Homo sapiens: one gene and its partners. The protein of the gene in region 1 interacts with the protein of each later gene in a pairwise test. Each region holds a gene or a part of one and is shown in the gene's direction. Other genes may lie near its edges. The genes, in order: TTC3, DLEU7, LRPAP1, KANSL2, ATF7IP, CKAP2 and CADPS.

Region 1 (3,500 bases):
AAACTCCTGACCTCAAGTGGTCTGCCCACCTCGGCCTCCCAAAGTGCTAGGATTACAGGTGTGAGCCACCGCTCGTGGTATGGCATTAATTCTCTTTTTAATCTCTGTTTTATTTGTATATGTGTTCCCCTTTTCTCATGTTGAATATTATTTATGTCTGACTTCTCTTTCTTGATCAGTCTTAGTAAAAGTTTGTCCATTTTTAAAATCTTGGCAAAGGATTAACTTTTGGCCTAATTTGTTCTATTATTTGTTTTTTATTTCATTGATCTTTTTTCTCTTTTATTATTTCATTTTACTTTCAGTTTATTATTTTACTATTTTTTTCACTTAAATTACACACTTAATATTAATTTTCAACCATTCCGATTTCCTAGTATAAGCATGCAAGACTGTAAACTTCCTCAAAGTTCATTTTTGCTTATCTAACATAGTTTAATTTATAGTGTTTTCATTAACTTTCAAATCTAAGTATTTTTACAATTTCTATTTTGATTTTTTCTTTGACTTATGAGTTACTTAGACATTTTTAAATTTTCAAATGTGTCTATATTGTTTTCCTTTAATTATCGATTTCTTACTTGTGTTGCCAGAGAATATTTTATCTTTTTAGCATTTTTTTTTTTTTGCCCTTGCTTTATGGCCTTGTACATAGTGAATTATTAGAACTGTTCTGTGTACACTTGTGAAGAGTATATATTCTGTAATTGTTAAGTGTCTATTAGGTAAAGCTTGTTATTTGTGTTGTTCTGATAGTCTTTATCCTTATTAATTTTGGTTTATCCTATCATTAACTGAGAGAAGTGTGTTGCAATATTCCACCATTACTAGTTTCTAACAGATTTCCTGTAGTTCTAACAATTTTTGTTCTTCTGTATTTTGAGACTTTTATTAGCTACATGCAAGCTTAACATTTTTTTCCTAGTGGCTCGAACCTTTACTATATTGTGATCTTCTCTAAGTTTGCTTCTTTGTCTTAGAGGCTTTTTGTCTGATCCCGTCTTTCTTTTGGTGCTAATTTACCTGGAATATTCTTTTCTTTCATTTTACTTTGATTTTTTTTAGTGTCCTTACATTTTAAGTGTCTCTTATAAGGGACATACTACTGGATTTTTCTTTTAATCTCACCAGACAACTTCTGTCTTTTAATTGGTTATGTTCCAGGTGTCTTGGTTGGTGTTTGACTCAGTTTTAGATATTAAAAAAAATCTAAAAGTATTTTTATTTTACCTTTGTTCTTGACAGATCATTTTGATGGATGTACAATTGTAGGTTGGTGTTTCTTTTCTGTCAGTAGGGTAGGAATACTATTCTGCTGTTGCTTATACAAAGTGTGCTGCCAGTTTTATTTATGCCTTTTTTTTTTTTTTTTTTTTTTTTTTTGAGGTGGAGTCTTGCTGTGTTGTTAGGCTGGAGTGCAGTGGCGCCATCTTGGCTCATTGCAACCTCCGCCTCCTGGATTCAAGCGATTCTCCTGCCTCAGACTCCCAAGTAGCTGGGACTACAGGCACCTGCCACCATGCCTGGCCAATTTTTGTATTTTTAGTAGAGATGGGGTTTCACCATGTTGGCCAGGATGGTCTTGATCTCTTGACCTCGTGATCTGTCCGCCTCAGCCTCCCAAAGTGCTGGGATTACAGGCGTGAGCCACTGCACCCAGCCTATTTATGCGTTTTTTGAAGAAAATATCATTTTTCTTTTAGTTACATTGGATTTTCTGTCTTTTGTGTTACATCATTTCACTTCTAAGTCTAGATAGAGATTATATTTATCCTATTTTGGATGCATGTGTTTCATGATTCTGCATTTTGTCTTTCATGAGATCTAGAAGTTTCTGAGCCCTGTATTCTTTAAATATTATGTCTCATTAGTCTCTTCTCTCCTGCTGGAACTTTAACTGGATATATATATACACTAAACTGTTTCCAGATCACTTATTCTTTATCTTTCATATTTTTTATCTCTTTGTTTCTCTTTACCAGAATTTACAGTGCTGGATAATTTCATAAGGCATATATTTTAGTTCACCAATTTTCTCTTCAACTGTGCCTAATATCCTCTGTAACCCATCCTGTCTCTTTTTTTTCTTTTAACAATTGCATTTTTAATTACTTTTTTTTTTTTTTTTTAAGATGGAGTCTCTCTCTGTCGCCCAGGCTGGAGTGCAGAGGCGCGATCTCAGCTCACTGCAAGCTCCGCCTCCCGGGTTCACGCCATTCTCCTGCCTCAGCCTCCCGAGTAGCTGGGACTACAGGCGCCCGCCACCACGCCCGGCTAATTTTTTTGTATTTTTAGTAGAGACGGGGTTTCACCGTGTTACCCAGGATGGTCTCGATCTCCTGACCTCGTCATCTGCTCACGTTGGCCTCCCAGAGTGCTGGGATTACAGGCATGAGCCACCATGCCCGGCCGCATTTTTAATTTCTAAAAGTTCTGCCTGGTTCTTTTTTGATATGTCCAGTCATTCTTCATGTTCTCATGTTATATGCTGATTTTTGTGACTCTATAGCTATTCTGTAGACTATATCAGACATTCCCAATGTCTGATATCCTTGAGGAGGGGGATGTCTAAATTTATTGCTTTTTTGTTTTTTTTTCTGTTGTCTCTCCTCAATGTAGCTGTCACCTCATGTGTTTGGTGATCATTGATTATGAACTTCTGTTTGATCTTTGTGGTGATCTTGAGAGTCTAATTTGAGGATGCTTGCTTTCTGAAAGCATTTCTATCAGCTTTGTCTGGGAGCCAGAAAGTTTAGCTGGCATCACTTTTGAGTTCCTACATTTTGCTTCTGGCCCAGGGCTCAGTGTCCTGATCCTATTACTGCTCTTGGCACCACTACTTGTAGCACTAAACTGTAGCCAGGTTTAATTTCTAGCTCAAGGTTTGTTGCTTTTGCGTGGAGAGGGTGCCTTCACATGTTCCCCTATTTCTATGAGCTCAGCAAAAACATCCAAAAAGTGTTTTTTTTTTTAATCTAGGATATACCTTTTTCCTCCCAACAGTACATTCCCCCAGAGTGTATAGTTGACCATAACTGATGGGATCAGAAGCTCTTTATTTTAATATTTAATTTTAGTAGTATATTTTTGTTTGATTGTATTATAAAAAATTTTATGGTACCAAGCAAGCTTTCTTGGTGATACCAACATTTCCATTAAAACTAGTTTACATCTAAGTTAAGATTTGAGTTATCCTAAAGAAAAGTATTAAGTAAATAGCAGTACAGATGGCAAATGGATTGCACAATATATCCTCTGGATCCATAGTGACCCTGCAGAGATAAACCTGTGATGGTCAAACAATGTGAAAACTGCTGTCAGAGACATGGGCAGGGTGCTCTTGTTTACAGAGAAGAGGTGCAAAAATCAACTTGATGGTAGTGGGAAGATCAGGAAATGCTTCCTGAAATTGAGTATTAAGAACTAATAGACATTAGGTGGTTGCAGAATAAGTTTTGTTTAGGAAGGACAAGCAGTTGGGTATGACTGGCTTCTAGGTT
Region 2 (4,174 bases), on another chromosome or scaffold:
CCAAAGTAATTTCCTCTCTGTCAATGCACAGACGTGCATTTTTACTTAGTTATAATTAGTGTGAACATACTCGTTTTTGTTTAAGAAAGGTTTTCTTTACCTTGGCATTCAGATTCGTTTTCATAGGCGAAGAAAGCACTGGGAAGGAGAAGGAACCTTTGCTGGCAAGTTGGGAGGATTATATGGGGTCATACTATCCCAGGGTTAAGGAAACCTTAAAGGACCCAACATCCCTCTCCATATCTCTTCTGATGATCCTTTTGTGCTCACAGACTAACCAGTGTGGCCTTTTCACTCAAAAGCCTCTCCAGATCTGCACAGCACCAAGGGTGCAGTCTGGCTCCCAAAGGAGTAATGCAATTCCATCCTCAGGTCTGCCAGGGCCCACCTGTCTGTCGTGGGCATGCACCATTGCCCTGGCTTTACTGGGCTGTTGGGTTGTCTAGTGGTTTTCCTTGCAGAAAGCAAGCAGGAACAATGCTGCTCCGGACTGGTTTTCCATACCACTCCTCTCAAATATCTTCTATTTTCTTAAGTGTGATCACACACCCATGGTTTCCAATCTATCAAAGCATAACATTGCTAGTCGCTTTTTTCTAAGTTAAGGAAGTAGCCATGTTGGGTTTAATTAAAAACAGCAACTATTTGTACAGCTGTCCCTAAGTTCATGGCTCATAAAAGGATTAACTTCAACCTTGCTGCCTAAGTCTTTTGGGAGTGTCACAAAAAAACATTTAGGCTTTTCTGGGCAGTGCCAGGCCTGGGCCTTGAGGCTTGCTGATGCTAGTTCAGCCACCAGGCTCTCGGTGCTCAAGTGGCACCCAGCAAAGCAGAGAAGAGCAGAACTTCCAGATACACAACTCCTCCTTCTTTTGTTTGGGGGATGCAAGGCCTTGAAGGCTGCTTCAACAAGTTTCTGAAAATTCCCCTCGGGTTGGGAAAGGCACAGTCTTCCTTTTGCAAGTTTTTCTAGAGCCCTTCGTACTTTTGCCCTAGAGTGGGTCTTTTGCACCCCCACCTCCCAGACCTCAGTGGTCATTGGCAGGCATCCTTCGAAGGAGGTGGGGGCGGGGTATCCCCGCCGATGGATGCGCCCGCACAAAGCAGCACGTTTTCTCATCAAAGCCCTGGAGAGAGGGAAGAAGCAACGCTCAGCATTTCGCTGATTTTCAAGTGCACACCGAGCAGCGCTTCAGGCAGCTTTGGGTCAGAACACGCCTGATTCGGACTTCAGGCGAAGGCAGAGGCCAGCACGGGTCACCGATTCAGAGCCGGGGGCGGGGCCGACCACACACGCTGTGAGACCCAGAGGCCGAGGAGCCGCGGGTTAGAAAATGTGACCTTGGCGACCCCAACGCCCCCGCCTCCCTCGCTGCTGCTCCACCTGCACGCGGAGCGCGCCGGGCCGCCAGCGGAGGCGATGGCCAGCCCTGCGCCCTTAGTGGCCTCCATCAGCCACCAAATGGTGGCTCTGCAGACCTTGCAGCTGCTGCAGCAGGAGTGGGGCTGGGGGGACGGTCCAGTCGCCCCCGGGAACCCGCGGGACCCAGACCACGTGTCCACCGCTCCAGCCCGTCGCTCAGGCCCGCCGCGGGCCCGGCCGGGGCCCGGGCGCGAGGAGCGGGGCGGGGGCGTGGGGACCAGGAGTCGGCGGACCGCGGCGCGGGCGAACTCCCCAGAGGAGGAGGTAGTGCGAGGCGCTGAGGGGGGCGCCGAGTTGCTGCCCTTCCCCCGGGACCGCGGGCCCTGCACCCTGGCCCAGATGGCGATGCGCAGCGCGCTGGCCCGCGTGGTGGACTCGACTTCGGAGCTGGTCAGCGTGGAGCAGACGCTGCTGGGGCCCCTCCAGCAGGAGCGGTCCTTTCCCATTCACCTGAAGGTGAGTCTGGCCCCCGCCATCCCCTCTGGCGTGCAGGGTAACCTCCCATCCTCCAAGGGTGGGGCTGCTGGGATGGCGATGGGTGGATCGCAGGATCCCAAACACTGCTGCCCACTGTGATTCAGCCCCAGTGGGAGAAGGAAGGGGGCGGGGGACACTCTGGGGACTCAGCAGGAGGGGCAGGGAGCCCCAGACCCACCTGAGGCCCGCCTGGCTGGCACAACCGAGATGTGGGGACTGCCTTGCCAAAACCTCCCCCTGGAACTCCTTCCTCTCTCACATAAATCAGCTTCCTGCGCTAGAAAGGCCCTTTCCACACGTGCAGCTTGTAGGGATAGAGGACAGCTCCCCCCACCCACTTTCCAAATTAATAACGCTTCCTCCAGAGCCTTAAATACACTTACTAAGTCCCTTCTGCCTTTTGTATGATGAAATCATCTACATTTATTTAAAGTTCCTTCACATTCATGAATCACTATTATTTTTTGCATAAATCCAATTCCCCACAGAGCTAAGGGGTCTTACAGAGTCAACCTACATTCTCATAAAGTGGGGTGAGAGCTGGGTGGGTCCCGGGTGTTAAAGCGTGAATACTAAATGCTAAACTCTTGCTAAGTCACCCAGCTCATATAGGTAGGGCACATTTCCTCTTAAGGTACCAAACTGTGTTAGCCAATTTAGCCCGGGAAGGGAGCAGCTGTCTCCCAGGCTGAGTGAGATTGCGGAAATCTGGGGGTCTGGGTTTCAGTCCTGGACTTGCCATTAACTAACCTAATTGGTTTAAGGTCACGAATCTCTCTGAGACATTCTGGCTTTCAGATTTTGACCAGGAGCATTGCTGTATTTTATTTCCCTGGGGCATCTAGCAGAAGGAGTTGGGGAGGGGTGATGAGGAGAGCTTAGAATATGTCTCAAGAGTTGCTATTCTGTACAAGCCAAGGTTTGGAAAAAGTTGCTATACATTAAGTTGCACTATACACTGTAAAAGATTTATTTAAAATCAAACATAATAAAGCCTATTATATACCCAAATAGGTATTGTTTCTCTACGTAGGGGTTTCTCAATCTCTGTACTATTCACATTTTGACCTGGCTAATTCTTTGTTGTCGGGGGTTGTCCTGTGTATTAGAGGATGTTTAGCAGCATCTCTCGCCTCTACCTGTTAGATGCCAGCAGCATATTCCTCGCCGCAAGTTGATACAGCCAAAAATGTCTCCAGACACTGCCAAAGGTGGCGGGGGCGGTGGGGTGGGAGGCAAGATGAGAAGCACTCCTACACTCACTTTAGAAAGTTAGAAAATGAAGCTGCATTTCACCAAATGCTCTCCAATGTAAGATGTACTTTTTTTTGGTATCACCAAAATTTTTTTTAATCCTGTCATTGAACTATGATACACCATTGATTATAAGTTACATGCTAATTTAAGGGATTTTTTTTTTTTTTTTTTTGAGACAAGGTCTGCCTGTGTTGCCAAGGCTGCAGTGTGGTAGCCATTCACAGGTGCGATCATAACACTACAGCCTCGAGCCCTGGGCTCAAGTGATCCTCCTGCCTCAGCCTCCTCAGTAGCTGCAACTACAAACCTGTACCACCACATCTGGCTGATTTCAGGGATTTTTAAAAAATGTGAATAAAAGTGCATTTTAAAATAGATGAAATATGAAGTGACTTGTGATGTCAGTAGCACATACAGGGCATAGGTAAGGCTGGCAAAAAGAGAGACTGACAATCAGTTTTACCTAAGGTGACCCTGGAAGGCTTCTCAGAGGAGGCAGCCTTTAAAAAAAAAATACATGTTATTTTCCAGACATTAAAGGGAAAAATATTTCAGGAGAATACTTTGGTTAAGGCCCAGCAGCACTGAAAGGGACTGAGGCTCTAGAGGAACTACAGTTAAGTTCAATATGGCAGAAGGCAAAAACTGATGCTGGAGACACAAATGGGGGCCAGTTAGGGAAAGGCCTGTGTGTCATGCTGAGGACCTTGGATTGTCTTGCAAGCAGAGGGTAGGTAAATCACAGAAGCCTGGATAAATCACAGAAGGGTAGGTTTCAGTTTGAAAGTCAGGTCAGAAGACAGCTGTCTAAGGGCTTGACCCAACTCAGTGGCAATGGACTAAACCCCGTGTCCTCTGCTCTGGAAGCAGTCCACTATAAACTATGCCATTTTAGCTTAATGCCACAGTCACTTCTACTTGGAAATCCTTTTAGCCCTTTCTAATTGACTTTTGATTCTAAACATTTTCCATCCTCCTCAAGCCTTCTTCATCCAAACCTCAACCCGCTCACACCTT
Region 3 (2,655 bases), on another chromosome or scaffold:
GTATAGGATTGGCATTATTTGTTTCATAGAGATGTGATGGGTGAGGCCATCTATGCCTGCCATTTTCTTTTTGCTTAGGTTTTTCATTAAGAACTTGATTTTTAAAAATAGACATGAGGCCTGGCATGGTGGCTCACGCTTGTAATCCCAGCACTTTGGGAGGCCAACGTGGATGGATCACCTGAGGTCAGGAGTTTGAGACCAACCTAGTCAACATGGTGAAACCCCGTCTCCATTAAAAATATAAAAATTAGCAGGGTGTGGTGGTGCATGCCTGTAATCCCAGCTACTCTGGAGGCTGAGGCAGGAGAATCACTTGAACTCAGGAGGTGGAGGTTGCAGTGAGCTGAGATCACACCACTGCACTCCAGCCTGGGCAACAGAGCGAGGCTCTGTCTCAAAAAAAAAGACATGAGGCTTTTGGATTTTCTGTTTCTTCCTTTGTCATTTTTTTAAAGATAGGTTTGTCGCAGAATTTCATCTAAGTTATCAAAACAATTTACATAAATCATTCACAGTATCCTCTGTGCAGTGATGTCCATTCTCATTCCTGCTCTGGGCCATTTGTGTTTTCTTTTCCCCCTGATCAGACTAGCTAAGAGTTTATCATTTTTACAGATATTTTCCCCAAAGAAACCTACTTTTGGGTCCATTGATTTTTTTTTTCTATTGTTTTCTTTTTCATTGACTTTTGCTCTTTTCTTATGAATTTCCTTTCTTCTACCTATTTTGTGTTCAATTTGCTGTCCTTGTTTTAGGTTCTTTTGATAGAGGCTTAGATCATTGATGAAGAATATGAAAGAATGGGATAATACAGTTAAAAACTTGGTCTACTTATGCCCATTAGAGAAAACATTCTTAAGCACGCATGGAATCTTTTAAAAATGGACGAGGTACTAGGACCCAAAGCAAATGTCAGTAATTCGCAGATGATAATGTATAAATATATGATATGTAGGTAAATAATACAAATCACATTCTTTGGCCAGAGTGCAATTGAGGAGGAAATCAGTAACAAAAAGACAATTAAATCCATTTGATTCTTTTGTTTTCGTTTTGTAGTAACTTGCACTTCCCTGGTGCCAGAGGCATGACACCTTTTTGTCTGCTCTTGGCCATTTGGGTGGCGTCTTTGGGAAGGGCCTACTTAATTCTTTTGCCTATTTAAAAAACTGGGTCTTGGAAATCTTGTCTTTTTTTTTGAGTCAGGATCTTTCTCGCACAGGCTTGGAGTGCAGTGGTGCGATCATAGCTCACTGCAACCTCAAACTCCTGGGCTCAAGCGAGCCTCCCACCTCGGTCTTCTGAGTAGCTGGGACTACAGGCATGCATCACTATGCTCTGCTAATTTAAAGAAAAGGTTTTTTTTATAGAGACTGGGTCTCGCTGTGTTGCCCAGGCTGGTCTCGGAGTCCTGGTCTCAAGTGATTCACCTGCCTCCACCTCGCGGAGTGCCAGGATTACAGGTGGCGGGAGCCGCCACACCCAGCCTGGTCTTAGCGTTATTCCCAGGTCTAGGTGTGAGTCCTTCCTCAGATATGTGTTGTGAATAATTTCCGATCCTCTGGCTTGCTATTTTACTTTCTTAATGGTTATCTTTTGGAAAGCAAAGGTTTCCAGTTTGATGAAATCTAATTTTTATTTTTTATTTTTCCGTTCTAGTGGTCTTTCTATTTTCTCATCAAATTGAGACTTTGGGGAAACTACACAGCAGCAAACCAGGATATATCCTCTTAAAAACAGCTCGAGCCGGCCGGGTGCGGTGGCTCATGCCTGGAATCCCAGCACTTTGGGAGGTGGAGGTGGGCGGATCACGTGAGGTCAGGAGTTTGAGACCAGCCTGGCCAACATGGTGAAACCCCATCTCTACTAAAAATAAAAAATTAGCCAGGCATGGTGGCAGGCACCTGTAATCCCAGCTACTTGGGAGGCTGAGGCAGGAGAATGGCTTGAACCTGGGAGGCAGAGGTTGCAGTGAGCCGAGATCGCGCCATTGCACTCCGGCCTGGGGACAAGAGCAAGACTTCGCCTCAAAAAAAAAAAAAAACCCAGCTTGAGCCAAGTGTGGGTGGCTCCCGCCTGGAATCCCAGCACTTTGGGAGGCTGAGGCGGGCAGATCACTTGAGGCCAGGAGTTTGAGACCAGCCTGGCCAACATCACAAAATCCCATCTCTACTAAAAATACAAAAATTAACCAGGAGTGGTGGCAGCATCTGCCTATAATCCCAGCTACTCGGGAGCCTAAGGCACGAGAATCACTTGAAGCTGGGAGACAGAGTTTGCAGTGAGCCAAAATCGTGCCATTGCTCTCCAGCATGGATAACAGAGCAAGACTCTGTCTCAAAAAAAAAAAGCTTGAAAATTTAAAAATATCTCAATAATTATGAGATGCAGTGATTTTTTTTTTACTTCCCTAAGCTGGGTTTCCAGGTATCTCTAGGTTCAGCTCCTCCGGGGCTGGAAGTACATGAAGGGCAGCATTGCCCACCTTGACCAGAGCAGGCTCGGAGCAGGGCAGTGGAAGAGCTGGTCCCAGCTCAGCCCAGCCTGCTGGGTCAGCATCCATCTGAAAGGTCATCTCTACCCAGGAACTTGATGGCTTCCAGCTCCACCCTAACAGAAACCTCCCCAGCATCTTGCCGAGTTGTAATCCAG
Region 4 (2,764 bases), on another chromosome or scaffold:
ACCTCAACCTCCAGAGTAGCTGGGACTACAGGTGTGTGCCACCGCGCCTGGCTTATTTTTGCAGTTTTTGTAGAGACGGGGTTTCACCATGTTGCCCAGGCTGGTCTTGAACTCCTGGGCTCAAGTGATATGCCTACCTTGGCCTCCCAAAGTGCTGGGATTAGAGGTGTGGTGGCCAGAATTTTGTTTTTTAATCTACTGTATTGGTCTATGTTTTACACTTGGCAGCAAAAGCTCTCAGTGCTTTTGGATCTTGTTTCATTTGTTGGACGCTCTTGTAAAATTTTTTTTTTATTAAAGGTAGGCTAGGGTTGAGGGAGACAGCAGAGTATTGCTTTAAAGTTTGCTGAAAAACATGCCAACTTTATTACTGTTTCCCTTGGTATTGCTGATGGGCTTTTCTCTTTTTTCTAGGACTTGGATGTTGTGGGTGATGGTATGCAGTGTCCTCCTTCACCTTTGCTTTTTGATCCTTCACTAACCCTTGAAGATCATTTAGTCAAAGAAATTGCTGAAGACCCAGTGGATATTTTGGCAAGTGAAGAACAGTCCCACCTGTTTCCCTCATGTAGTGACCTGGCCAGGCAGAGGGTTCCCTGCTAGATAGCATGTGCTCCTGGAGGGGAGTGGGGTGTCATCACTAGTATAAAGATGCTCCACATGTCTCTCACTTATTGAATACCATATAAGCAAAGCACTTTTAAAAATGCCCTACTCTGCTCCTGTGTACCCTTGTTGCTGTAGTTCTCCAGATGGGCTCTTAGAACACCTAATGGCCCGTGATCCTCATATCCCAGAGTAGGACATACATTTATTTAAATAAAAGCTTGAGACAAGGAATCTAGGGAAATCATACCTTCTGAGGGAGAGTTCATCACTGAAATTGTTCTCATTGTAGAAGGACCAGTAAAGTAATGTGATTTGAGTTCTGTCCGTGAGCCTTGGGTAGAATTCCAGTGGCCCTGACTGAAGACCAGCAGTTGTACTGTGGCTGTTGGTTTCAAGCAGAGGCCTAAAGGACTGTCTTCCTGTGGTCTGTTGGCTGTTCTGGGACCTCAGTAGGGAATGGCTATTTCATTTGGAAGAAACAACCTACAGCTCACCATCCCATTGGAAGAGGCTCAGGAATAGGCTCTTCCAAGGGACTAGGATAGCTAATATGGGAAGAGCATCTGTCCAGAATTAATTTCTGTTGTATTGTTCTTATTGCTAGTTTAAGTGGCCACTGATAAGTCAGATTCATACTTCAGACCACAGTGAATGAATTACTAACTGAAGTGCCTTTATTTCTTTTAACAGGGCCAGATGCAGATGGCTGGAGATGGGTGCAGATCCCAGGGATCTCGAAATTCTGAGAAAGCCTCTGCACCATTGTCTCAGAGTGGATTGGCTACTGCAAATGGGAAGCCAGAACCCACTTCTATTAGTTGATAGTTTGGGGAACCATTTTACTTTGGTGGATTTAAATTTCTCGTTCTTCAAAGAAGTATTTCTGATCATCTCTCACAAAACACAGGCAACCCAGACTACCTTGTTTTTCTTCTGGATTGAGTATTATAGTCAAACGTAAAGCCAAATTTTGAGGACGTGGACCGTGGGTTTCTTCCCACTCAGGGCAAGGAAGAGAAAGAGAGATAATCCCTATCAAAGCTTCTGGGATTATTTGGGACTATACCTAAAAGGAAAGTGACATCTTTGTAATGGGATTTCCCAAGTCATGGATAGAAATCCACTTAAGTAGCTAGGTGGGAGCTGTCTTTGTGAGTGGTGTCTTTGAGATACTGATGGCCCTAATATCGGTTATCTCTATCTGAAGACCTGCAGTTTAGCTTTTCTTCACCTCTACTTAATTGGGCAGTCTTTAACCCCTTTCCCTGGTGAACTCTGGCTTTTTATCCTCTGAGAAAACAGCCCACAGGACTGGGTCCTCCTTATCCGTCTTGCTTTTAACCTATGTAAATTTCTGTGGTTGCTATCTTATGTAAAATATAGTAAAAATTTATTGTATATAGTTTCTATTAAATGTTAAAGAAAATGTTATGAAAATATCAAACAGTCACCTGAATTGAATGCATGTTTTGTTTGAGAATATAGTTTCTTTTTCGCGGTTTTGGGGACCTGTCTCTGATGGGAAAGGGAAGTTGGGACAGATGATACTTCCATCCCAAGAAGTAAATAAATCTTCAGTAGCTCATTTTGGTTTTGCTTTGAAGGAAGAAGTAAATGAAAAGGGGCAGGACTTATTAAAGCCCATCAGTTCCAAATATCTTTCTTCTTTTTACCCTCCACTCTGTGTCTCCTACACCCACTCCCATTTCTCACGATTAATGCCAATGCCATCTCTGCCAGACGTGGTGGCTTACGCCTGTAATCCCAGCACTTTGGGAGGCTGAGGTAGGCGGATCACTTGAGCTCAGGACTTCAAGACCAGTCTGGGCAATGTGGTGAGACCCTGTGTCTATATTTTTAAATTTTAAATAATTATTTTTAAAAAAATAATGCTAATACCATCTCAGAATTCTCTAGTGGTAGGAATATACTTAAAACATAGAGAAATTGGGCCTGATGCTGGATCACTAAGATAGACATAGATAGGTATTGTCAAGATCGTTTTGACACTGAATCTTAGAGCAGGATTAAAATAGAAGTTCAGTTAGGGTTGAGGTACCTATGCTAGAAATTGTCTATTTCTATACTGCATTATGACAAGGAGGGCAAAAGATTACTTTCTATAAGAACTGAAATGGGCACAGAATGGCTTACA
Region 5 (3,500 bases), on another chromosome or scaffold:
CATTAACTTTTTTTGATAACTAGTGAAGTTGAATTTGTTATTGTTTTATATATGCATTTTTTTCATTTTCTGTGAATTAGCTGTTTGACTTTTTGTGTATTTTTCTATGATGAGTGTTACTGTTTTTCTTATTTGTTGGTAACAGCTACTTACGGCTTTGGGGTCCTTAGCTTTTAATATTTGTCACAGTAATTTTAAAATTACCTTTTAAGTGGTTTATGATTGTATATGTTAAGAAGTTTTGCATTTTTATGTAGTAAAATGTACTGCCCCCCTTTTTTTTTTTGAGATAGGATCTTGCTCTGCTGCGCATGCTAAAGTGCAGTGGCAGTGATCTCTGCCCACTGCAGCCTCGACCTCCCAGGCTCAAGCAATTCTCCCACCACTGGAGTAACTGAGACTACTGGTGAAGGATATCACACCCCGCTAATTTTTTCTTTTTTTTTTTTTTTTAATAAACAAAGCCTCATTATGTTGCCCAGGCTGGTCTTGAACTCCAGGGGTCAAGAGAGTTTCCCACTTCAGCCTCCCAAAGTGCTGAGATTACAAGCATGAGCCACCATGTCCAGCCTGTACTGCCTTTCCTTTTTCCTTTATGATTTCTACAGCACTTGTCTGCCCAGAAAATATTACCTGTTGTAAGGTGAATTGTATGTTTATATTGTATTTTATTTTATTATTATTGTTTTTTGAGGTGGAGTCTAGCTCTGTCTCACAGGCTGGAGTGCAGTGGTGTGATTTTGGCTCACTGTAACCTCTTCTTGGGTTCCAGCGATTCTGCTACCTGAGCCTCCCAAGTAGCGGATTACAGGCGTGCACCACCATGCCCTGCTTTTAGTAGAGACGGGGTTTCCCCGTGTTGGCCAGGCTCGTCTTGAACTCCTGACCTGAGGTGATCTGCCTGCCTTGGCCCCCACAGTGCTAGAATTACAGGTGTGAACCACCGTGCACAGCCTTGTTCATGTGTTTTGTTAATTTTTTACTAGAACTTTTTCTGGAAGTTTTAATAAACTTAAAAAATACTTTTACATCTATGTGGACATATCTGTGTTTTGACATATTGTGTGTTAAGATAAGTTGCTAGTTTCCATTTTTTTCCAGATATCTAGTTTCCATAGACTTGATCCATTTCTTATTGCTTTGGTAGCAAACAATTCTGATTCATATACTAGGTATATTTAACCTGGGGTCCATTGTCCTCTAGGGGTTCCACCGATCCCTTGATATACACAATTTTATGTAAGTCTGCATATGTTCATTTTTTTTTTTTTTTGAGATGGAGTTTCGCCCTTGTTGCCCAGGCTGGAGTGCAATGGCACGATCTCAGCTCACCGCAACCTCCGCCTCCCAGGTTCAAATGATTCTCCTGCCTCAGCCTCCTGAGTAGCTGGGATTACAGGAATGTGCCACTATGCCCGGCTAATTTTGTATTTTTAGTAGAGACGAGGTTTCTCCATATTGGTCAGGCTGGCTCGAACTTCCTACCTCAGGTGATCCGTCTGCCTCGGCCTACCAAAGTGCTGGGAGTACAAGTGTGAGCCACTGCGCCTGGCCTCCTATGTGCATTTTTCTGGGGAAAAAGTGATAGCTTTCATTAGCTTCTCAAAAGAATATATGATATAAAGTTTAAACAGAGGTTGACAATGACTGTATCTGGGCCTTATTCTTAGAGCATTATTGCATTGTTTTATTTGCTGTAGGACGGTACACAATTTAAATATGTGTTTGTAGTGCTATATCCTATATAAAATCCAATACCCACTCACAATTCTATTTTACAATTTTCATAGCTGATTTTGACTGTTTTTGCAGATCAACTTTAGGTTCATTTGGTTAATTAAGAAAAAAAAGCCAGCTAATGGTTTTGGTTACAATTCCATTAAATTTACATTGGGTGAATTTATAACCTTATACTATTTTTTTTAATTCATCGGTATTACACACTTCCTGTAGACTACCAAAAAGCACTATTTCCTAGGAACTCTGGGAGAATTTGTGGTATCTGTGACTTTTCAGGAGGATGTTTTCTTGGTGCAGCTATAATTTTAGTAGGGATGAATTAGGAGACAATATAAGGTTATATTTCTGTTTTCAATCTGGTTTAGGACATGATGACATAAAAGTAGTATCAGTATGAAGTTAGACGTGGGAAAAATAAGTCGCAAAATAAAGTATTGTACAATATTCGAAATCAAAATCCTTTTTTGTTAAACACAGACAATTTTTTTTTTTTTTGATGGAGGAATTTGAAAAGGTACCTTACTCCTTTTCTGGCCAGGGTGAGGCTTAATCTCATAATAAAGATAAAAAATTTTTATTTTAGTTTCCTTGGTATCATTAAATTATTATATTTTCTGATAAGGATGTTTCCCTAATTATTAGAATAAATTTATTTTCCATTAAATCTCTTTTTTATGCTGATTGCATTGAAAAAGATTATCTTGATTAATAAGGATGTATTTCAGCTGTAATTCTACTTTATATCTTTTAAATAATTGATTCAGGAGTCAGTTTATTGCCAAAATAACATTTTTATTGAACTAAACTTGTAAATTAGTGGAGGAATGAAAAGAAGAAATCACGGAAATATAGAACTCAAATGATAAAATATTATTGGCTTTATGAAAATAAATCTAGAAAATGGATATAAAATATTAAGATATTATTGGCCTTTCTTAAGCAGTTTATCTTTTTTAATGAAAAATCCCTGCCTTTGGGTCTTTTTCAAGCAACACTGCTTATAACAGCTTAGATATTTTACTTTTTTGTGAAAGTTGAGAACTTTTTCTAGTTCTGGTTTATTATTATACTTGGTTTCTAGACTATAACAGATGAGGAGTAAAAAATTAGAAGTGCTACTTGAGAAATGCATTTTGGTAGGGAAAAGAAATGATGTCCAGCATCATGATAGTAAAGGAGGGTTATATTTCTACTGTTAGAAGCAATAATTTATAAACTTAGTTATGAGGCTATTTAGTTTGGGAATCAGTATTCCCAGAGCTGAATCAGTAGTTATAGAATGTTCATTATTAATTGATGATTTTATTAATGATTCTGAATCAGAGAATATTGTTATATTTAACCTATTTCAGAAGGGAAATGAGCGTGTGATTTAGTTTAGAAGGATTTCTATTATAATTTTTTCTTTTAGGTTTTGAGGCCTATGGAAAATTTATGCATTGGCTGCATACCTTGTTTTTCAAGGGAGTCACATGTATAAAGAAGCTTGAGAATAAAGTTCCTGCCTTTTGAGTTTCTAACAGTTGTGGGGCATATTATTGATTGAAAAATTAGGTGATGTTTTAACATTATTTAAACAGATTACCTTAATGTCATTAATTAGCTTCAGAGACCATAGTCCTTGTCACTTTCCTAGAGTACTTAGAAATTGCCTATCCTTTAGTGGAACTCTCTTTTAAACTTCTTGCTTGTTTGACCTTATATTTTATTAGAGAGGCCAAGAGTATTTAAACATTACTTTGCCATGTTCTTTCTCAGAT
Region 6 (2,325 bases), on another chromosome or scaffold:
TAATTAAATTCAGAGGTTTTTTTTTCCAGCTCAATGGATTCACCAGGATGTCTCACAAGTATTTCCAGCCTAACATGTTTTATTTTGAACTCTTTGTCTGCCCTCACTGCTTTCCCATGCCCAGTATCCCTTTCCCATACCCAACATCCCTTTCTCCCAAAAAAGAAAAGAAAAAACTCTTCTCTGGCATTTATGACTCTTAAGAAATGTTGGATAAGACGCTCCTAATACATTTGCACACTCATTCCTACACAGTCATGTATTCATTTGTTAATAAGTTCTGACTTGGGTGGGTGTGGTGGCTCACGCCTATAATCCCAACACCAGAAGTCCAAGGTGGAAGAATCGCTTGAGGTCTAGAATTCGAGACCATCCTTGGCAACATAGTGAGACCCCATCTCTACAAAAAGTAAAAATTAGCTGGGTATGGTGGTACACACCTTTAGGCCCAGCTACTTGGGAGGCTTTGGCAGGAGGATCACTTGAACCTGGGAAGTTGAGGCTGCAGTGAGCTAAGATTATGCCACTGCACTCCATCCTAGGTGACAGAACGGCAGACACCCTGTCTCTAAAAAAAAAAAAAAAATGTTCTCAGAAATATTTCTCAGATTGGACCCTTCCTTTCCTATCTGATCTCTTCCTAACTTACTTAGGCTATTACAACAACCTTGTCTTCTTGCCATCACAGATTGTTACTTTTCATTCTCTGCCATTCTAGACAGTCCTTTACATTGACCAAATTTAATTATGTCTGTCTCTGGTGAATTTTTTTTACCAAACTTCTTTCATATAAAGCTCATTACAATCTAGCTCTCTGGTGAATTTTTTTTACCAAACTTCTTTCATATAAAGCTCATTACAATCTAGCTCTTGTTTACCTATCTAAGCTCAATACCTCCTGCTCCCACTCCTAACCTTGTTCCTTACCCTATATTCTAAACACACTGGCTCTTTAATGTTATGTTAATTTAATAGATCATTTTCTTTTATGTGCCATATGAAGGTTGTCTTCCTTGGTCTTGATCAAGTACTCATTTTTAAGACCCAGCCTAAATCTCGCTTGTGAAGCATTCCCTAACCATCTCCCTATACCACAGGCAAAGTTAGTTGTTTCTTTTTGTGGGTTTTAATAATCCTTTGTTCTTATTTCATATATAGCATTTATTTCATTTTATAATAGTATTTGTTATATAGTTGGCAGCAGTATTTGCTGAGGAAAAGGAATGGTTCAGAGATGGCAATCGTGTTCTTTTATTTTGAAAATGTGGCCAACTAGGAACAACTTTAATGTCTTCTGATTTTGTTCTTAAAATTCAGCCAAAAGCTTAATCTATAAATGTATTTTCTATAGGAGAAAATATGGAGAAGTCTTGTGCAAGCAAGGAAGAAGTCAAAGAAGTCAGTATTGAAGATACAGGTGTTGATGTAGATCCAGAAAAACTGGAAATGGAGAGTAAACTTCATAGAAATTTGCTATTTCAAGATTGTGAAAAAGAGCAAGACAACAAAACAAAAGATCCAACCCATGATGTTAAAACCCCCAATACAGAAACGAGGACAAGTTGCTTAATTAAATATAATGTGTCTACTACGCCATACTTGCAAAGGTAAACTTTTAAAATGTACCATGATTTGTTTTCATGCTTGGAGATAATAAATAACGGCATTTAAAAATCTTTGAGATAGCTTCAGATTACAGCTACCATTTATTAATATAGAAATTTCAGTACGGGCATGGTGGCTCACGCCTGTAATTTCAGCACTTTGGGAGGCCGAAGCAGACAGATCACTTGAGCCCAGGAGTTCAAGACTATCCTGGGCAACATGGCAAAACCCCATCTCTACAAAAAATAAAAAAAATTTTGGCTGGGCAAGGTGCTGTGTGCCTGTAGTCCCAGCTACCTGGGAGGCTGAGGTGAGAGGATCACTTGAGCCCAGGAGGCAGAGGTTGCAGTGAGCCAAGATCATGCCACTGTCCTCCAGCCTGGATGACAGAGCGAGACCCTGTCTCAAAACAAAAAAGAAAACAGAAAAGTTTTTAAACAAATAGAATGTCATTAGAACATTTCACCTCTTAAATACTGTATTTACTTTCCCTAACTATTGCCATTTTGAAAAAGAAAACTTTTATTTGAATTTACTTTAATCTGTGTGTTATTAATAACAGTAGGTTTTGGCTTTCAGGAATTAGCCAGTTCTACAGATACTCAGGTATCTACTGTATACAAGTTGTAATGACAAATTGAGAAAAGGATAAGTTTCTCACTTCGGTGAGCTTATAGTACCTCTCTAAAAGACAATTAAATGCTTTTACCTGCTTATAAC
Region 7 (4,191 bases), on another chromosome or scaffold:
GAACATCCTTTACTTCTTGAGAAGAATTAAAAAGTGAGGCTGCAAAACTGTCACAATCCCCGCACTGCTCAATTTTTTTTAAATTTTGTGTTGTTACCAAATGTGTGATGGCCACAAAAGTTGTGTCCTTGAGGTATGGTGGTGAAGTCAAATATAAGCCATCCAAGTACTTAACTCAAAAGATCAAACAGAATTGTTGAGGTTAATGTGAAACCAGTTGTTCTGAGTTCATCTGCAGGTCTCAAACAGGTCACTTTACTATCAAAGCTAGTAAAACTCATGGTAAATTATAAAATACGTAAAGACAAAAGTGATTTAAACTTTAAACTCATGCTACACTATTAAAATCACTCCCACGAGTATCTACAGATAATTAGAGAACTAGAAAATACATAAATATAGGCGATGAAGTGGAGAGGTCTCTAGATAGCCTAAGTTCTGAAGGTGGCTGGCTGGTGGTTTGTTTTCATCCATCTGCGTGCGGGTCGCAGGTTACATTCAGCACGTTGGCCAGCTCCCTCGTTTACCAGGTTTACTGGCCTAAGTGAAAGGAGCACGGGGAAGGCAGGCACCATCTGCTGCTTTGTATTAATAGTTTACCCGAGAGGCAGGGGTGAACAGAGTGCGACAGTCGACGCATTAGATGTTGACGCCGCTGAGTTCTTAGGGTGTCTTTGTCTGATCGCGGGGTCCCCAAGCCTCCACCGAGCCAGAATGGAGGGAGGGTTAAGCAACCAGAAACCCTTCTATTTTTCTGGTAGGCTCACCTCAGCAGAAAGCATTCCCAGGTCTTGGGAACTGAAGAAGATTCATCATAGATTTTGGGGGTGGGGGTAGGCAAGGTCGGGGGCGCTACATAAATGGTTGAGTTGCCTGGTCGAAACACCAATCCATTCAAAATTTGATTCACTTTTATTTTAATTAGACTGGGCGCATGCGGAATAAGTTGCTGGAATCAGAGTTTACACAGGTGGGACAAACACGCTGCCCAGCCCCCACGCCCCCCACGCCCCAGGTGTAAAGAAGCCTGGGGAAAGGAGATGGACCCTTTCTTTCCCGTATAAGATCTCACGGACTTCCTCCTCCTAAGTAAGACCTCTCGATTTAGCGTCTCCAAACAGCCCGCTCGGCTGGTTTCTGGATTTCTCCCTCCCCCAAGAACTTTTTGTCCGCGGGAGGGGAAAAGGGGTTGAGGCAATGAGAGCCAGATATCAACAAAAAAATTATCCACGAAGCCGGCAGGGGAGGAGGGTGGCAAGGTATTGGGGTCAGAAGTACTGAGGCTCTGAGGACGCTCCGCGCTCTCCCCCCTCCAGCCCTCTGCAGCAGCCCTTTACGCCGCGGACACGGGAGAGTTAAGCCAATAAACACGTAAGCGCCGCTCCCTCCCCAATCGGCAAGATGCCTCTTCGGCTCTTGGCTGCATCGACAGCTTGCAACACTCGGCATCTTTTCTGGAGGCGCCTCCTTCAGCAGCCGCAGATGGCATCCGGCTGCGGGCTCGGGGCTCGCAATTGATTCTCCCCCTTGCCCACCTCGAGTCCACGGACGCACCTCTCCCTTCCCCTCCTCCCTTCGCGCTTCTGGGTCTGAGCCCAGCTCGCGACCGCCGGGCAGAGGATCAGTCGCGGCGGCCGAGGCTGAGCAGCAGCGCTCTCGCTCCCTGACCTGGGGAGAAGCGCCCACCCGGGAGAGCTGATCCCCGGCTGCCTCCAGCGCCCCCCACCTTTTGCACTCCAAGCCGGGGGCTCCAGAGACCCCGCTCCCCAGGCGCCACTATGCTGGACCCTTCGTCCAGCGAAGAAGAATCGGATGAGATCGTGGAGGAGGAGAGCGGCAAGGAGGTGCTCGGCTCGGCCCCGTCCGGCGCGCGCCTGTCTCCCAGCCGTACCAGCGAGGGCTCGGCCGGCAGCGCCGGGCTGGGGGGCGGCGGCGCCGGCGCCGGAGCCGGGGTGGGTGCAGGCGGCGGCGGGGGCAGCGGCGCGAGCAGCGGCGGCGGGGCCGGGGGGCTGCAACCCAGCAGCCGCGCTGGCGGCGGCCGGCCCTCCAGCCCCAGCCCGTCGGTGGTGAGCGAGAAGGAGAAGGAAGAGTTGGAGCGGCTGCAGAAAGAGGAGGAGGAGAGGAAGAAGAGGCTGCAGCTGTATGTGTTCGTGATGCGCTGCATCGCCTACCCCTTTAATGCCAAGCAGCCCACCGACATGGCTCGCCGGCAGCAGAAGGTAGGTGCGCCTGGGAGGCCCAGGGAGCAGCACCCGGACGTCGCCAGGCGGGCGGGGTGAACAATGGGAGCTGGCGGCGCAGCTGGCGAGGAGGAGCAGGAGAGGTGGAGACCGCGCCCTGGGGAAAGGGCTACGAGGCCCCCTCCCAGCGGCCGGGCTCGCCCAGGCCCAGCCCAACCCAGCCTGGAGCGCTCCTGGAGCTGACTGGGACCGGCGAGGGCCGCGGAGCGCAGCGCCGCTTGCTCGAGCCCCCCCAGCCCGGGAGCGTTGGTGAGCGAGGCAGGCAGGTCCCGCTTTGTGGACCGAGAGGCTCGGGGAGTGATTTGCTGCCCGCGGCGCCCAGAGAGGCCTTGCTCGCTTGCAGGGCTCCCAGCGCTCTCCAGCGGCGGGCGGCTGCGCTCAACTCCGGGCCCGCCCTCCTGGGCGTGCGTTCGGCGGGCGGGGGCAACGGCAGGTGGGGGCGCCGAGGTGGAGGGAGAAGAGCGTCTTGGAGCAGCGCTCCGCTCGCTGGGGCAGAGAGCAACCGCAGGGGCAGGCGGGAGAAAGCAAGCCCAGAAGGCGAAGCTTCCCGTGACTCTGCGAAGGGCACCCTCCTCTCCCTGCCCGGGTCAGCTGATCACCGACTAGCGTCGCCAAAGTGTCCTCGGGCACTGCTTCCTTATGGCTGGAGTTCTCACCAGTCCCCCTGACCCTTCCTCACTGACCCCAGAGCAGGGGCACGCCCTCTGGTCCTTCCGTCCGGGTCAGCCCCTCCGCCGTCCTGTCTTTGACCCTATTCTCCTCTTCCCAAGGTGACTTCGCCGCCACCTTCTGGCTCGCCTGGGTCCTCCAAGCCCTGCCACTGCTGCCTTGATAAAGTACAGCTGCAAAAAGCTTCGCAATCTGAGGCATCAAAAGCTTTTTCTGTCTGAGGCTGGGGCAAGGCTGACATAGCTCTGGGCTGCCTTTGATGTTAAAAAAAAAAAAAAAAAGGCGCCTATTTCTATCAGCTGTTCTTTAGCTGGAGAAAGGGATGAGGGGTACTGCAAGATGAGGGGCAGTGGCGGGGGGTGGGGACAGAAGAAAAGCAGGCAGGAACCCAGCTGGAGTGAGTTAGTGAAGAAAGTCAGCGTTCTGTTCTCTTTTAAATAAATTTGCAGCACTTGAGCTATCAAAAAAGCCAGTCAAGCCCCACACAGAGGCAGTGTGAGGCCAGTCCTAACCCCATCAAGACTGTGAGACTAGTGTCTGAAAATAGTGAATCTTTCAGTTGCTGCCATTTAAGAACAAATTACATGTTGCTGTAGTAGCATTAGGTTTTCCGTATTTATCCACCCTTACCTTGAGTTAGCACAGATTTCTCTGTTTGTTTTGCTTACATGTGTACACACACCACCCAGCACTGATGATTTATTTCAGCCATCACGAGCTTGGATATCAGTTTCATTAAAAGATAAAACTGATTTCCAGGGTGAGAGACAGGAGGTGGGTTACACACAAGACTCTCCATCTTTATCTGTGGCCCCTTGTTTTTTCAATTCGTATTTTTGACTGCAGTAGAGCAAAAGTATCCTCAGAGAAGTAAAAGTTTTTGGGATATTATTTTAAGGCTGGATGTTGAGTCCACGGGGCCTAATAGTTCACATTTCAGTTTGGAATTCCTATTGTAATTGTGCCTTTACAGCATAGGAACTTCAACCTCCAAAATCTATCCCAGTAATAACAGCACCAGCCAAAAATATTCCATTCCTTTGACAATGAAAACTGTGACTTTAAGTGTTAGGTCGAAAGGGGTGGGGGAGATGTCTAGAGACATTTATCAAAGTCTCTAGAGGTCTGTCCTTTAAATAGTTGCTTAAGTCCAGAGCTAGCATGGAGAAAGAAATCCCACAGAGACACAGTTCTTCTAAACAGAAACTTCAGTTACTTTAGAGATTATTATAAGGCCAGATTTTTCTGATCTGATTGTATGCTTTACCTGAATCCACTCAAA

What was found.
Region 2: the proteins of TTC3 (region 1) and DLEU7 interact in a two-hybrid assay, tested with the Homo sapiens proteins (one large-scale study listed by BioGRID and IntAct).
Region 3: the proteins of TTC3 (region 1) and LRPAP1 interact in a two-hybrid assay, tested with the Homo sapiens proteins (one large-scale study listed by BioGRID and IntAct).
Region 4: the proteins of TTC3 (region 1) and KANSL2 interact in a two-hybrid assay, tested with the Homo sapiens proteins (one large-scale study listed by BioGRID and IntAct).
Region 5: the proteins of TTC3 (region 1) and ATF7IP interact in a two-hybrid assay, tested with the Homo sapiens proteins (one large-scale study listed by IntAct).
Region 6: the proteins of TTC3 (region 1) and CKAP2 interact in a two-hybrid assay, tested with the Homo sapiens proteins (one large-scale study listed by BioGRID and IntAct).
Region 7: the proteins of TTC3 (region 1) and CADPS interact in a two-hybrid assay, tested with the Homo sapiens proteins (one large-scale study listed by BioGRID and IntAct).

Annotation. Positions count from the first base shown.
Region 1 is NC_000021.9:37,079,754-37,083,253, forward strand, and holds part of TTC3 (E3 ubiquitin-protein ligase TTC3), read left to right. Parts: intron 1-3,193; exon of another isoform or gene 3,194-3,500. UniProt on the Homo sapiens protein: E3 ubiquitin-protein ligase which catalyzes the formation of 'Lys-48'-polyubiquitin chains. Mediates the ubiquitination and subsequent degradation of phosphorylated Akt (AKT1, AKT2 and AKT3) in the nucleus.
Region 2 is NC_000013.11:50,840,893-50,845,066, reverse strand, and holds the start of DLEU7 (leukemia-associated protein 7), read left to right. Parts: upstream 1-1,374; 5' UTR 1,375-1,420; coding exon 1,421-1,879; intron 1,880-4,174.
Region 3 is NC_000004.12:3,505,768-3,508,422, reverse strand, and holds part of LRPAP1 (alpha-2-macroglobulin receptor-associated protein precursor), read left to right. Parts: 3' UTR 1-2,655. UniProt on the Homo sapiens protein: Molecular chaperone for LDL receptor-related proteins that may regulate their ligand binding activity along the secretory pathway.
Region 4 is NC_000012.12:48,652,711-48,655,474, reverse strand, and holds the end of KANSL2 (KAT8 regulatory NSL complex subunit 2), read left to right. Parts: intron 1-414; coding exon 415-534; intron 535-944; exon of another isoform or gene 945-1,093; intron 1,094-1,299; coding exon 1,300-1,431; 3' UTR 1,432-2,264; downstream 2,265-2,764. UniProt on the Homo sapiens protein: Non-catalytic component of the NSL histone acetyltransferase complex, a multiprotein complex that mediates histone H4 acetylation at 'Lys-5'- and 'Lys-8' (H4K5ac and H4K8ac) at transcription start sites and promotes transcription initiation.
Region 5 is NC_000012.12:14,368,682-14,372,181, forward strand, and holds part of ATF7IP (activating transcription factor 7-interacting protein 1), read left to right. Parts: intron 1-3,500. UniProt on the Homo sapiens protein: Recruiter that couples transcriptional factors to general transcription apparatus and thereby modulates transcription regulation and chromatin formation. Can both act as an activator or a repressor depending on the context.
Region 6 is NC_000013.11:52,472,478-52,474,802, forward strand, and holds part of CKAP2 (cytoskeleton-associated protein 2), read left to right. Parts: intron 1-1,351; coding exon 1,352-1,607; intron 1,608-2,325. UniProt on the Homo sapiens protein: Possesses microtubule stabilizing properties. Involved in regulating aneuploidy, cell cycling, and cell death in a p53/TP53-dependent manner.
Region 7 is NC_000003.12:62,872,617-62,876,807, reverse strand, and holds the start of CADPS (calcium-dependent secretion activator 1), read left to right. Parts: upstream 1-1,391; 5' UTR 1,392-1,778; coding exon 1,779-2,219; intron 2,220-4,191.